Linked DNA regions of Homo sapiens. The protein of the gene in region 1 binds, or shares a complex with, the protein of each later gene. Each region holds a gene or a part of one and is shown in the gene's direction. Other genes may lie near its edges. The genes, in order: AHSP and HBA2.

Region 1 (3,626 bases):
TTTATTTATTTATTTATTTAGAGACAAGGTCTCACTCTGTCACCCAGGCTGGAGTGCAGTGGCGTGATCTTCGCTCACTGCGGCCTCTTCCTCCTGGGTTCAAGCGATTCTCCTGCCTCAGCCTCCCAAGTAGCTGGGATTACAGGTGCATGCCACCATGTCTGGCTAATTTTTGTATTTTTAGTAGAGAGGGGGTTTCGCCATGTTAGCCAGGATGGTCTCGAACTCCTGACCTCAAGTGATCTGCCTGCCTTGACCTCCCAAAGTGCTGGGATCACAGATGGGAGCCACCGTGCCTGGCCGGTAACACATACTTTCCACCCTATATAAATGAAAACATGTTCACATGGAAACCTGTACACAAATGTTTATAGCAACTCTATTCACACTTGCCCCAAAGTACAAACAATCCAGATGTCCTTCCGTGGCTGAATGAACAAACTACAGTGCATCCATACAATGCAATGTGTCCACTGACACTTGTGACAACTTGGATGGAGCTCAAGAACATCATGCTGACCAAAAAAAGTCAGTCTCAAAGGTTACATACTGTATGATTCCATTTATATGACATCCTGAAAAAGGCTTAACTGTAGTGATGAACAGATAAGTGGTTGCCAGAAGTTATGGGTGAGGGTAGGGGTGGCTACAAAAGGGTAACGTGAAGGAGTGGTTTTTGGGTGACAGAAACATTCTGTATCTTAACTGCGTTTGTAGTTACACAAATCTGTTATAAAATTAATAAACTAGGCCAGATGCGGTAGCTCACACCTGTAATCCCAGCACTTTGGGAGGCCAAGGTGGGTCGATCACTTGAGGTCAGGAGTTCGAGACTAGCCTGGCCAACATGGTGAAACCCCATCTCTACTAAAATACAAAAATTAGCTAGGCGTGGTGATGCACGCCTGTAATCCCAGCTACTTGGGAGGCTGAGGCAGGAGAATCGCCTGAACCTGGGAGGTAAAGTTTGCAGTGAGCTGAGATCGCATCACTGCACTCCAGCCTGGGCCACAGAGGGAGACTCCCTCTCAAAAAAAAAAAATTTAATATACTGTACACCAAAAGGAAGTCAGTTTTGCTGTATATTGATTAAAAAATGCTACAACCAAAAAGGCAAATCAACAAAGCTTTATGAGTGTATAGGCACCTATGAATGTTGGGTTTTGAATGGAAAAAAAAAGTGACAGGAAATATACAATGTTTAATGCTGGTTACTTTGGAGGGGGCAAAAATGATTCAGTTTTTCAGTGTACGTTTTTGTATTGTTTTAATTATTTCAATTAGTATATAGTGATTTTGAAATTTGAGAAACATCTACTGAAAATGGAAAATATCTGGAAAAATATTTAAAAAGAGGAAAAAGAGTATTTCTGCTTTATTGGGTACCTGTTGACAGGGTAGTAAACAAGACAAATCCATCTCCATTCTTTTTTTTCTTTTGAGATGGAGTCTCGCCCTGTCACCCAGGCTGGAGTGCTGTGGTGTGATCTTGGCTCACTGCAACCTCTGCCTCCTGGGTTCAAGCGATTTTCGTGCCTCAGCCTCCCAAGTAGCTGAGACTACAGGTGCCCGCCACCACGCCCGGCTATTTATCTCCATTCTTATGGAGCACAGCGTGGTGGAGTTCAGTCCACACGCTTACAGGTGGCTTATCTGCAAAATGTGTCTAAAAAGAAATTTTATAGGATAAATATTTTGTACATGTTTGAAACAGTGCTTGGCACAAATGAATAAATGTAATGCAAGCTGCTATTAATACATCATCTCCGAATTGGGAGAATCATTGCGATCACATCGTTGTGATTACACAAAAGCCTCTGTCATGTAATAGGGCTCAGTAAACGTCAATTTCCATAGCATTTCGAGCCTGGATACTGAAATATGGGGCAAAAAGCAGGAACATGCCCCTGGTTTGGCTCTTGCCTTCTTGCATTTCCTGGGTTTCCTCATTTATCTTTTTTTTTTTTTTTTTTGGCCTTGTTATCTTTCTACCTTCAGGGAAGCCTCTCCCTTCTTCTCCTCCCTAGAATGACCTATCACCCTCCTTCAGGACCTAGATGCAGGGCGTTTCTATCTTAGGCTGACACTTGACTCCTTGCCTACATCTATAGCTTGGCACAGAGAGATTCACGCACCCTCAAGAGTGTGGGTGAGACATATACAGCCTGTTAGACCTGAAGGTGAGCCCAACCTGGGAAAATCGTGACCTCAGAGCAGGGCAGGATGTGAAAGGTTTTGGAAAGGAGATAGCCCTGCAGGGCAGGAGGGATTTTTAAGGGGAGGAAGTGGGTTGGGGGAAATACCCAGTGAGGAGGGAAACAGATATGTAAATTCTACCCTTTTCTCTACCCAGGCAGATGGCTCTTCTTAAGGCCAATAAGGATCTCATTTCCGCAGGATTGAAGGAGTTCAGCGTTCTGCTGAATCAGCAGGTGAGTCCAAGCTTTCCATTTCAAAGGACTGGCCTGGAGACTGGGGGGTGCCGGGGAAGTGGAGGAAGAGGATAATTGGAGCTGGTGAAGTAATGGTGGAGTTGATGGAAACAACGAGAGACACGGGATACAATGCAGAGGAAAGAGAATGTGAGAGTTGGTGCTGTGGCACTATTCTAGTATTCCCGAATCCCATTGCTGACCACATTCTCCCTTGCCAACTGCCTCTCCGCAACCCCCCAGGTCTTCAATGATCCTCTCGTCTCTGAAGAAGACATGGTGACTGTGGTGGAGGACTGGATGAACTTCTACATCAACTATTACAGGCAGCAGGTGACAGGGGAGCCCCAAGAGCGAGACAAGGCTCTGCAGGAGCTTCGGCAAGAGCTGAACACTCTGGCCAACCCTTTCCTGGCCAAGTACAGGGACTTCCTGAAGTCTCATGAGCTCCCGAGTCACCCACCGCCCTCCTCCTAGCTCAGGGACCCAGCCCCTCCTCTCTGAGAAACTCTGACCTTCATGTCCTTAGGCTGTGCTCCTGCCACTCTACCCTGACACCTCAATAAAGACCAGTGCTGGTTTTGTTGGACTTCCTGGCTTCTCTTTCATGGTCTGTCCTGACATGTGGAGGCACTCGGTCCCTTTCCTTCCGCCCTCCTTCTTAGATATGCTCTTGGAAGCTTAATTCCTTACAGCAGAGGTTAGCAGCCTTGAGTGACCACCGGGCAGCGATTCTAAACTAAAACAGGCTGAACGAGGGCCAGGAAGGCGGGACTAGAGAGAGTGCAGAGCTGCAGGGGAGGGGGTGGCAGAAACAAGAAAGGGGGATAGAAGTCCTCCAGACATTGTCCTGTGACCTGCTTGTCGAGGAGGAAACTGTTGGAAGTCTCCCAGTCTTGTTCATCCTGCGCCAGGTCCACCGCCTCGACTTTTCAATCCCCTGTCCTTAGCCCCAGCTCAAACTACATTCTAGGATCTTCGGACTCTGACTACCGCAAAATACCTCCCCGGAGCCCCAGGCATCGCAGGAATTTAGAGTTGGAAGGGATCCTGGGAACCCTTTAGCGCGCCCCTTATATTTCAGGAGGGGAAGCCACTTCCCTTTGGCTCCAACATCCCTGGGCGCAGATGCCAGGATTGGGAAGCAGAGGAATCCGCCTTCCCCCCACCCCAAGCTTCTCAGATCAATTCCCG
Region 2 (3,222 bases), about 31 Mb from region 1:
CTTCCTATTCTCAGTGAAGTGTCTCCCCTGCATCCCTTTCAGCCAGTTCATTCAGCTCTGCGCCATTCCACAGTCTCACTGATTATTACTATGTTTCCATCATGATCCCCCCAAAAAATCATGACTTTATTTTTTTATTTTTATTATTATTATTTTTTTTTTTTTTTTTGTGACGGAGTCTCGCTCTGTCACCCAGGCTGGAGTGCAGTGGCACAATCTCGGCTCACTGCAAGCTCCACCTCGCAGGTTCACGCCATTCTCCTCCCTCAGCCTCCCGAGTAGCTGAGTAGCTGGGACTACAGGCGCCCCCCACTACGCCTGGCTAATTTTTTCTATTTTTAATAGAGACAGAGTTTCACTGCATTAGCGAGGATGGTCTCGATCTCCTGACCTCGCATCTGCCCGCCTCAGCCTCCCAATGTGCTGGGATTACAGGCGTGAGCCACCGCGCCCGGCCTTATGTATTTATTTTTTTGAGACAGAGTCTCGCTGTGTCGTCAGGCTAGAGTGCTGTGGCACGATCTCGGCTCACTGCAACCTCCAACTCCCTGGTTCAAAGGATTCTCCAGCCTCCACCTCCCGAGTAGCTGGGATTACAGGCGTGCACCACCACACCCAGCTAATTTTTGTATTTTTAGTAGAGACGGGGTTTCTCCATGTTGGTCAGCCTGGTCTCGAACTCCCGACCTCAGCTGATCCACCCGCCTTGGCCTCCCAAAGTGCTGGGATTACAGGCGTGAGCCACCGAGCCTGGCCAAACCATCACTTTTCATGAGCAGGGATGCACCCACTGGCACTCCTGCACCTCCCACCCTCCCCCTCGCCAAGTCCACCCCTTCCTTCCTCACCCCACATCCCCTCACCTACATTCTGCAACCACAGGGGCCTTCTCTCCCCTGTCCTTTCCCTACCCAGAGCCAAGTTTGTTTATCTGTTTACAACCAGTATTTACCTAGCAAGTCTTCCATCAGATAGCATTTGGAGAGCTGGGGGTGTCACAGTGAACCACGACCTCTAGGCCAGTGGGAGAGTCAGTCACACAAACTGTGAGTCCATGACTTGGGGCTTAGCCAGCACCCACCACCCCACGCGCCACCCCACAACCCCGGGTAGAGGAGTCTGAATCTGGAGCCGCCCCCAGCCCAGCCCCGTGCTTTTTGCGTCCTGGTGTTTGTTCCTTCCCGGTGCCTGTCACTCAAGCACACTAGTGACTATCGCCAGAGGGAAAGGGAGCTGCAGGAAGCGAGGCTGGAGAGCAGGAGGGGCTCTGCGCAGAAATTCTTTTGAGTTCCTATGGGCCAGGGCGTCCGGGTGCGCGCATTCCTCTCCGCCCCAGGATTGGGCGAAGCCCTCCGGCTCGCACTCGCTCGCCCGTGTGTTCCCCGATCCCGCTGGAGTCGATGCGCGTCCAGCGCGTGCCAGGCCGGGGCGGGGGTGCGGGCTGACTTTCTCCCTCGCTAGGGACGCTCCGGCGCCCGAAAGGAAAGGGTGGCGCTGCGCTCCGGGGTGCACGAGCCGACAGCGCCCGACCCCAACGGGCCGGCCCCGCCAGCGCCGCTACCGCCCTGCCCCCGGGCGAGCGGGATGGGCGGGAGTGGAGTGGCGGGTGGAGGGTGGAGACGTCCTGGCCCCCGCCCCGCGTGCACCCCCAGGGGAGGCCGAGCCCGCCGCCCGGCCCCGCGCAGGCCCCGCCCGGGACTCCCCTGCGGTCCAGGCCGCGCCCCGGGCTCCGCGCCAGCCAATGAGCGCCGCCCGGCCGGGCGTGCCCCCGCGCCCCAAGCATAAACCCTGGCGCGCTCGCGGGCCGGCACTCTTCTGGTCCCCACAGACTCAGAGAGAACCCACCATGGTGCTGTCTCCTGCCGACAAGACCAACGTCAAGGCCGCCTGGGGTAAGGTCGGCGCGCACGCTGGCGAGTATGGTGCGGAGGCCCTGGAGAGGTGAGGCTCCCTCCCCTGCTCCGACCCGGGCTCCTCGCCCGCCCGGACCCACAGGCCACCCTCAACCGTCCTGGCCCCGGACCCAAACCCCACCCCTCACTCTGCTTCTCCCCGCAGGATGTTCCTGTCCTTCCCCACCACCAAGACCTACTTCCCGCACTTCGACCTGAGCCACGGCTCTGCCCAGGTTAAGGGCCACGGCAAGAAGGTGGCCGACGCGCTGACCAACGCCGTGGCGCACGTGGACGACATGCCCAACGCGCTGTCCGCCCTGAGCGACCTGCACGCGCACAAGCTTCGGGTGGACCCGGTCAACTTCAAGGTGAGCGGCGGGCCGGGAGCGATCTGGGTCGAGGGGCGAGATGGCGCCTTCCTCTCAGGGCAGAGGATCACGCGGGTTGCGGGAGGTGTAGCGCAGGCGGCGGCTGCGGGCCTGGGCCGCACTGACCCTCTTCTCTGCACAGCTCCTAAGCCACTGCCTGCTGGTGACCCTGGCCGCCCACCTCCCCGCCGAGTTCACCCCTGCGGTGCACGCCTCCCTGGACAAGTTCCTGGCTTCTGTGAGCACCGTGCTGACCTCCAAATACCGTTAAGCTGGAGCCTCGGTAGCCGTTCCTCCTGCCCGCTGGGCCTCCCAACGGGCCCTCCTCCCCTCCTTGCACCGGCCCTTCCTGGTCTTTGAATAAAGTCTGAGTGGGCAGCAGCCTGTGTGTGCCTGGGTTCTCTCTATCCCGGAATGTGCCAACAATGGAGGTGTTTACCTGTCTCAGACCAAGGACCTCTCTGCAGCTGCATGGGGCTGGGGAGGGAGAACTGCAGGGAGTATGGGAGGGGAAGCTGAGGTGGGCCTGCTCAAGAGAAGGTGCTGAACCATCCCCTGTCCTGAGAGGTGCCAGGCCTGCAGGCAGTGGCTCAGAAGCTGGGGAGGAGAGAGGCATCCAGGGTTCTACTCAGGGAGTCCCAGCATCGCCACCCTCCTTTGAAATCTCCCTGGTTGAACCCAGTTAACATACGCTCTCCATCAAAACAAAACGAAACAAAACAAACTAGCAAAATAGGCTGTCCCCAGTGCAAGTGCAGGTGCCAGAACATTTCTCTCATTCCCACCCCTTCCTGCCAGAGGGTAGGTGGCTGGAGTGAGGGTGCTGGCCCTACTCACACTTCCTGTGTCACGGTGACCCTCTGAGAGCAGCCCAGTCAGTGGGGAAGGAGGAAGGGGCTGGGATGCTCACAGCCGGCAGCCCACACCTGGGGAGACTCTTCAGCAGAGCACCTTGCGGC

The links.
Region 2: the proteins of AHSP (region 1) and HBA2 are in contact, whole or in part, in a crystal structure (PDB 1Z8U), measured with the Homo sapiens proteins. Residues at the interface, in NP_001305150.1 of Homo sapiens: Glu17, Leu21, Gln24, Gln25, Asp29, Leu31, Val32, Asp36, Thr39, Val40, Asp43, Trp44, Phe47, Tyr48, Tyr51, Tyr52; in NP_000508.1 of Homo sapiens: Ser36 (codon at 2,069), Phe37 (codon at 2,072), Thr39 (codon at 2,078), Pro96 (codon at 2,249), Val97 (codon at 2,252), Lys100 (codon at 2,261), His104 (codon at 2,415), Val108 (codon at 2,427), Ala111 (codon at 2,436), Pro115 (codon at 2,448), Phe118 (codon at 2,457), Thr119 (codon at 2,460), Pro120 (codon at 2,463), His123 (codon at 2,472), Ala124 (codon at 2,475), Asp127 (codon at 2,484), Lys128 (codon at 2,487).

Annotation. Positions count from the first base shown.
Region 1 is NC_000016.10:31,525,783-31,529,408, forward strand, and holds AHSP (alpha-hemoglobin-stabilizing protein), read left to right. Parts: upstream 1-2,117; 5' UTR 2,118-2,180; intron 2,181-2,194; exon of another isoform or gene 2,195-2,232; intron 2,233-2,353; 5' UTR 2,354-2,357; coding exon 2,358-2,432; intron 2,433-2,675; coding exon 2,676-2,909; 3' UTR 2,910-3,021; downstream 3,022-3,626. UniProt on the Homo sapiens protein: Acts as a chaperone to prevent the harmful aggregation of alpha-hemoglobin during normal erythroid cell development. Specifically protects free alpha-hemoglobin from precipitation.
Region 2 is NC_000016.10:171,067-174,288, forward strand, and holds HBA2 (hemoglobin subunit alpha), read left to right. Parts: upstream 1-1,809; 5' UTR 1,810-1,846; coding exon 1,847-1,941; intron 1,942-2,058; coding exon 2,059-2,263; intron 2,264-2,405; coding exon 2,406-2,534; 3' UTR 2,535-2,644; downstream 2,645-3,222. UniProt on the Homo sapiens protein: Involved in oxygen transport from the lung to the various peripheral tissues.